Linked DNA regions of Homo sapiens. Changing the gene in region 1 together with any one later gene gives a genetic interaction. Each region holds a gene or a part of one and is shown on either strand. Other genes may lie near its edges.

Region 1 (4,021 bases):
CTACAAAAGATCCTGCTACAGTTGATGTCTCTGGAACTGGCAGACCTTCCCCTCAAAATGAAGGATGTACATCTAAACTGGAAATGCCACTGGAGAGCAAATGTACATCATTTCCCCAGGCTTTATGTGTCCAGTGGAAAAATGCTTATGCTCTCTGTTGGTTAGACTGTATCCTGTCAGCTTTGGTGCACTCGGAAGAGTTAAAGAACACCGTGACTGGACTGTGCTCGAAGGAGGAATCTATATTCTGGCGGTTGCTTACAAAATATAATCAAGCAAATACACTTCTATATACCAGTCAATTGAGTGGTGTTAAAGGTTGGTACTAATATTTTATTTTTATTTACTTATTTATTCATCTGGAGTCAGGGTCTCATTCTGTCACCCAGGCTGGAGTGCAGTGGCATGATCATGTCTCCTTGCAGCCTTGACTTCCCTGGCTCAGGTGGGCCTCCCACCTCAGTCTCCCAAGTAGCTGGAACTACAGTCGTGCACCACCATAGCCAGCTAAGATAGTGAGATGGTGGCCCCACTGTCTTGCCCAGGCTGGACTCGATTTCCTGGGTGCAAGCACCCTTCCCGCCTCAGCCTCCCAAAGTGCTGGGATTACAGGCATGAGTCACCATTCCAGCCTACTTGTCTTTAATTCTTAAAAATATTAATGTTGAGTTTTGTCTCCCAGCATGTGGGAAAGATGTCATCCATTGCTTCTGTTTCCTGGAGGCCTGGGAGCAAGGAGCCCAGGAACAGTATCACGAAGCTTGAGATAATACCAGTTACATTATCCTGACTGCCCAAAAGGCAGTTTTTTTGTTTTTTTTTTTTATACTTTAAGTTCTGGGGTACATGTGCAGAACGTGCAGTTTTGTTACATAGGTATACGTGTGCCATGGTGGTTTGTTGCACCCATCAACCCGTCACCTATATTAGGTATTTCTCCTAATGCTGTCCTTCCCCAACCCCTCCATTCCCCATCAGGCCCCAGTGTGTGATGTTCCCCTCCCTGTGTCCATGTGTTCTCATTGTTCAACTGTCACTTATGAGTGAGAATATATGGTGTTTGGTTTTTTGTTCTTGTGTTAGTTTGCTGAGAATGATGGTTTCCAGCTTTATCCATGTCCCTGCAAAGGACATGAACTCATCCTTTTTTATGGCTGCATAGTATTCTATGGTGTATATGTGCCACATTTTCTTTATCCAGTCTATCATTGATGGGCATTTGGGTTGGTTCCAAGTCTTTGCTATTGTGATTTTTTTTTTTTTTTTTTTTTTTTTAAGACAGAGCCTCACTCTGTTGCCCAGGCTGGAGTGCGATGGCATGATCTCAGCTCACTGCAACCTCCGCCTCTCAGGTTCAAGCAATTCTTCTGCCTCAGCCTCCCAAGTAGCTGGGACTACAGGCGCCCACCACCAGGCCCAGCTAATTTTTGTATTTTTAGTAGAGACAGGGTTTCACCATGTTGGTCAGGCTGGTCTTGAACTCCAGACCTCATGATCTGCCTGCCTTGGCCTCCCAAAGTGCTGAAATTACAGGTGTGAGCCACCATACCTGGCCTAGGCAGTCTTTTTCAAAACTCTAAGACTGTGCTTGTGTCTCAGGGTGTCAGGATAATAGTGGTTAGTTTTAAGTGTTTAAACTACTGAAAAGCAGAATGAAGAAGTGAGTAAAAATCACCCATAATCACACAACCTCCTAAGATCTCTTGGCACAATAAGGGATATGTTTTTCATTTTATTCTCTGTAAAATAGGATACTTATGAACCCACCTCCCAACACAGGAAGAATTAAAACATTCCCAATAACTTACATTTACCTATGCGTTTCCTCCCATCCCATTCTCTACCTCCCCCCCATAAGTAATCATTATCTGAAATGTGTTTCATCATTCCATCTTTTCTTAGTTTTTCTTACATGTGTTTATCTAAACAGTATACAGTAGTCTCCCCTTATTGTAGTTGTACTTTTCTTGGTTTCATTTAACCCGAGGTCTGAAAGTAGATGAGTATAGTACAGTAATATATTTTGAGAGAGAGGGAGACCACATTCACATAACTTTCATTACAGCATATTGTTATAATTGTTGTATTTTATTATTAGTTTTAATCTTACTATGCCTAATTATAAAACTTGATCATAGGTATGTAGTTATAGGAAAAAGCATAATATATAAAATGTTTAGTTACTATCCAAGGTTTTAGGCATCCACTGGGGTCTTGGAAGGTATCCCTCTCAGATAATGGGGGATGGATGGTACTGAACCCTGTATATACAATGTTTTTCCCTATACATACATAATTATGATCAAGTTTAATTAAGAGTAAATTAAATGTGGGCCAGGTGCAGTGGCTCACATCTGTAATCCCAGCACTTTAGGAAGCTGAAGCGGGCAGATCTCATGAGGTCAAGAGTTCGAGACCAGCCTGGCCAACATGGTGAAACCCCATCTCTACTAAAAAATACAAAAATTGGCTGGCTATGGTGGCACACGCCTGTAGTCACAGCTACTCTGGGAGGTTGAGGCAGGAGAATTGCTTGAACCCAGGAGGTGGAAGTTGAACAATCACTTGAACCTGGGATCACGCCACTGCACTCCAACCTGCCTGGGTGATAGAATGAGACTCTGTCTCAAAAAAAAAAAAAAAAAAAAAAAAGTAAAGTAAATGTGGCTCAACATGTTGCTGTCAGTTGGAACATTTGTTTCTGATCGTGTCTTCCACCCACAAATTGAATGCTTTTTCCATCTTAACACTTATCAGGCACTGTGGCCATAACTTGAGCAGTTGAGATGCAACAGCAAAATTAGCACAAATTTCTTTTTCTTTCTTCGCAGTTTCATGGATAAGAGATTTGTTCTTAGATCTCAGCAACCTCAGCATATGATTTTTTTCTTTAAGTTGAGAACTTTGACCTTTTTACTTAGAGAAGCATTTTACAGCTTCTCTTTGGCATATCTGAATTGCCAGCATTACTATGCTCGTGCTTTGGGGCCATTATTAAGTCAAATAAGGGTTGCTTGAACACAAGCACTGCAATACCATGGCAATAGATCGCATCACCAAGATGGCTGCTAAGTGAACCACAGGCAGGAGTGTAGACAGCATGGACACATTAGACGAAGGGAAGATTCACGTTGCCAGTGGAACACAGCAGGACAGCAAGAGAGTTCATGATGCTACTCAGAATGGCATGAAATTTAAAGCTTATAAATTGTTTCTGGAATTTTCCGCTTAATATTTTCAGACCACGGTTGAGTTCAGGTAACTGAAACCATAGGAAGCAAAACACGGATGAAGAGGGACCACTTCGTATTGCCTAATTTAGTTTGTTTTGATCTTCTGGGACCTTTTTTTCTTGTTGTAAAAATTTATGGGGCTGTTTATAGTTGTGGCTCATTGATTTTTCATTGCTACATAATACTTCCATTTTGTAAATATAACAGAATATTCATCTACCTGTCAGTGGACAGTGGGGTTTTTTTGCCATTATAAATGCTGCTGCTGTGACCATTTGGGGGGCAAGTCTCCTGGGGCACAGTATGAGTTTCCCTTCTGTATAACAAAGGAATGGAAAATTATAGACTTTCGTGTCCAAATTTACAAGATAATGACAATTGTTTTCCAAAGTGGTTGTACCAAGCAATTCTCCCATTAATAGTGTATATAAGAGGTCTTCCTGATCCATATATTCTTCTTGGTTTATTTTCACACTTTTGAGATTTTTGCTATTTGAGTGGTATAAAATGGTCTGTGATCTTGATTTGCCGTTTCCACATTTTGAAGAGGTTGTCGGCTCTATGTGTATATATTGCTCATATTTGTTCCCTCTTCTGTGAAATGCCTTTTGTATCTTATCCCTATTTGTTCTGTTCTGTTGATTGTCACGTTTTAATTGATTTGTATGAGTTTGTTCCTTGTATCATTGTTGCTAGAGTTACATCAGATGTGTTGCTGAATCTGCTCCCAGTTTGCAGCTTGTGTTTTTACTTTTTAAAAACTGTCTTGATTTATAGGGAAGTCTTTA
Region 2 (3,500 bases), on another chromosome or scaffold:
TCCTCAGAATGGAATTGGATTAGTGACAGACTTGAGCAGCCGGTTCAGTCGAGAGAGAACTTAATTCCTCCTGTGTTATTCACACGGCTGATTCTAATCAGATGTGAAGAGACAGCTGGAGGAGAGCAGCGGGTCAGCCCATGCCTGGTGCGGAGGCTTCATGTTCTTGTAGGCATCTTCAGGGAACTGGCAGGAGCGCTTTGGGTTGGAGACTCTGAGCAGGGCCCTTGGGTTTATAGCCTGCCCAAGGAACTGGGCCTGGCTGCGGGACTCCCATGGTTGGACCTTGTCTAGATTCAGTGAAAGTTTTGAAGGACAGTGCATGACAGACGTCACTGGTCAGGTTCACCAGAGCTTGGCTCACTTGTCTTCAGAAGGATTCAAAGGCAGTTGACCAGACTTGGCAAGTCCCAGACTGGTGCAGCCACTGTCCTCGAGACCCTGGTTGTACACCCTGAGGTGCTTCTGCTTCATTACCTGCTGAAATTTGGAGACCTCTTCTTCCTGGATAACCTTCAAGATACTCATTGTGCATGCGAGGAATTCCCCGCCCTCCTGGGGGGACTCCACTCCCCAGGCAGGCAAGGTTGGGCAAGGGGAGGGCTGTTGCTGGATTGCCAAAGGGAGCATGGACATTTTTGTTTGGAATTCAGGGTGGGAATGGGACTCACCAGAGTGGCTTCAGTGCTCAACTCACAGTGCAACATAGGACAAGGTGAAGGCCTTCTTGGGAGGCCTCTTCTGGCTCTAGCAAGCAGGTGTTGCTGGGCAGTGTAGAGGGACCCAGGCCGGTTGCTGAGCAGGAAGATGTACCTAACACTGATGGGCCTGCACACCTTAGGGTATGAGAGCATCGCAGGGGAACCAGGAAACTTGTTAGCTGGTTTTCATGTGTTTAAAAAGAAGACTCGGAGGCAGAGTTTATTTTATGAAGGGCTAGCTTTTTGCCATTTCTTCTGAGCTTTTGCCTTTTCCTTTATGAATACTTCCTGCCTATGGGTGTACTGTAAATGTAACAGCCAGTGAGCTTTCTAGAAGCAGCAGATGGTGAAAGATCCACAGGTGAGGAGCCTGCCCACTGGAGGGGCGAGACAGTGCCCAGGCAGGGCGTGCAGGTGGCAGAGCTGTTTGCATGCTCCGCGGGGTGGCTTCCCAAGCTCTCTGTAGAAAAACTGCCTGAGGGCAAATGGCTCCACTGAGCTGCTACCTGCAGGAAAGAAGCTCAAGGGCTCTCCTCGTCTCACTGCCTGCCTTCTTCACCTGCTGGGAGGAGGGCATTGTGGTGTCTGAGATAAAGGATACCCCCAAGGTGGAAGCAGAGCCATGGGGGTGGCCTCCAGCAGCAGGGAGGAGCATTGTGCAGTAAATTCTGACTCCGGGGCTCCTGTGGGGATTGGAACCCATAGGAATTGCACAATGAGGGTAAAGGATGGGGCGGCAGCAGCCAGGTCTGTCTAAGGGGCGAGCAGCAGTGGCCGAAGGCTCCCAGGGCCCTCGGGCAGCAGCCCTTGCTGACCAGTGCAGCCAGGTCGTGGCTGCCTCCAGCTGGTGGGTCTGCCTTCCCCTCTGACCGCCTCAGTGCCTTCTGGAGGACTGTGGCTCTCTCTCCTGCCCAGTGGCTGTGGTGCCTTCCTACTTCTGTGTGGGCAGACTGATTTCCCTCTCTACCTTTACTTGTGGCTGAGGCGAAGCTCCTGCTCTTGCAAGATAAGAGGTGGGGCTGAGGCGCTGCAGTGCAGCTCAGGTGGGGCTCAGGAAGCACCCCACCCACCCCAGAGCACTCTGCATCCTAATAAGCACATGCTCGAGTCACTGGAATCTGGTGCTGCTGGCAGTGCCAGAACCCTCCCCTAGCACCTCGAGGGGACAGCCAGCATGCTCCTCGGGTGGAGGATCCAGGAATTCTTGGAGCCAACATTGCACAAATGGGCAGGAGCCTCTCAAGGCCCCCACAGCCTGGGCTCCCTGCCTGGGGAAGTGGCCAGGCTTCATAGGGGCATCACTTGGCCCGCCTGGTAGGCATGGAGGCCAGTGCCATACGTGACCTTGTTGTTGCCTGCACCCCTTCCTAACGAGCACCCTGCTCCCCACTGGAAGGAGAGGGGCCAGGGCTCCTCCCTCCCCAGGGAGGGGAGAAACGTGATGTTGCTATTAGCAATAACAGCTGCCGAGTTCCCACCATGCGCCAGGTGCAGTGTTGAGTGCATCACACGCGGTTCCCAATTCCTCTGCCTGTCACCCCACGAGGAAGGGGCTGCCATCACGCCCGCTTCACAGTGAGGAACTGAGGCTAGAGGGGAGCAAGTGACCTGCCCAGGGCCACACAGCTGGTCAGTGGCCCAGCTGGGCCTTGCACCAGGCAGCTGACTGTGCCTGTATCTGACTCAAAGTGGCTGTTCTTTTCAGAAACCTGAGCGGAGATACTGGGCTCACATGCTTTCATTTAAACCCTCTCTCATTTTTGCCCCAGTAGTTATCTGGCAGCTAAATCTCTTCCTCCTTTCTTCCCCAGTGACCATTCTGGTTCCCATCATCACAGGGCACATAACTCCTGGCCCTTCTCCTCTGATTACATTTAGGGAGAAGCCCATCCTGATGCAGCTCCCTTCTAGAGGGAGTTCCATTTAGGCAAAAAAGCGCTCTCCATTCCCATCAGAACCGGGCTTTCCAAAGGGCTCTGAAATTGGTTCCACTGAAGAAGGCAGCTGAGCTGCCTCCCCACATTCCGCTTGTTAGTCGGGAACTTCAAGGCCAAAAGATTTGGCAGGATTTAAAGAGTTGCTCTCAAGCTGTCTCATTCTGAGCACACTAATGCTGTCTGTCTTCTGATGGTGAAGTGGTGGGTTTGGAGTCTCCCTCCCCTGCCCTTTATGGAGCCGCCGATAGTACCGAGGACTCTTCACATGCAGACTCGAGGGGTCCAGAGAATGGGCCAGACCATCTTGCCTGCCCCATGGCAACCTCCAGAGGAAAGAGGCTCAGAGAGGTCAGGGGTGTCTGCAGTGAGCTGCTGATGGCAGAGAGTGAGCTCTCGGACCTTCTCAGCCGGGTGTGGAGCTCTTGCCTCTCCCGCGAACCTCAGTTTAGTTATCTTCATAGCCCACGTCCTGGTCGCTTAACAAACATTGAGCTCCTGATCGGCACATAACACTAAGCCAGATATTTGGGGGATATGAAGATGAATGGTACAGACTCCCTCCCCTCCACCCCCGCACTCCTGTGGGAAGTCCCGGAGCTGGAAATGGAACACAGTCACACCCAAGGCATTGATTTCAGGAGTCAGCAGAGAGCAGGGAGTAGGGAGAGTGCTGGCTCCAGATGCTTCTATCCAGGGAGATGCTGGGAAGTGGCCCAGAGTCAAGGGCTTAGGAGGTTGCAAACCTCACTATGCCAAGAGCTCGGTCCCTGATCCACCCCATCCCCTTCCACATCTCCCTGACTGTCCTTCTTTACATTTGCTGGGCAGAGTGCCACCTGTGTGCACCAGCCCTCCCTGCCTG

Evidence for each region.
Region 2: changes in USPL1 (region 1) and NF2 together harm fitness more than expected from each alone (negative genetic interaction), as found in Homo sapiens cells (one large-scale study listed by BioGRID).

Annotation. Positions count from the first base shown.
Region 1 is NC_000013.11:30,631,157-30,635,177, forward strand, and holds part of USPL1 (SUMO-specific isopeptidase USPL1), read left to right. Parts: coding exon 1-318; intron 319-3,058; exon of another isoform or gene 3,059-3,258; intron 3,259-4,021. UniProt on the Homo sapiens protein: SUMO-specific isopeptidase involved in protein desumoylation. Specifically binds SUMO proteins with a higher affinity for SUMO2 and SUMO3 which it cleaves more efficiently. Also able to process full-length SUMO proteins to their mature forms.
Region 2 is NC_000022.11:29,690,633-29,694,132, forward strand, and holds part of NF2 (merlin), read left to right. Parts: intron 1-3,500. UniProt on the Homo sapiens protein: Probable regulator of the Hippo/SWH (Sav/Wts/Hpo) signaling pathway, a signaling pathway that plays a pivotal role in tumor suppression by restricting proliferation and promoting apoptosis.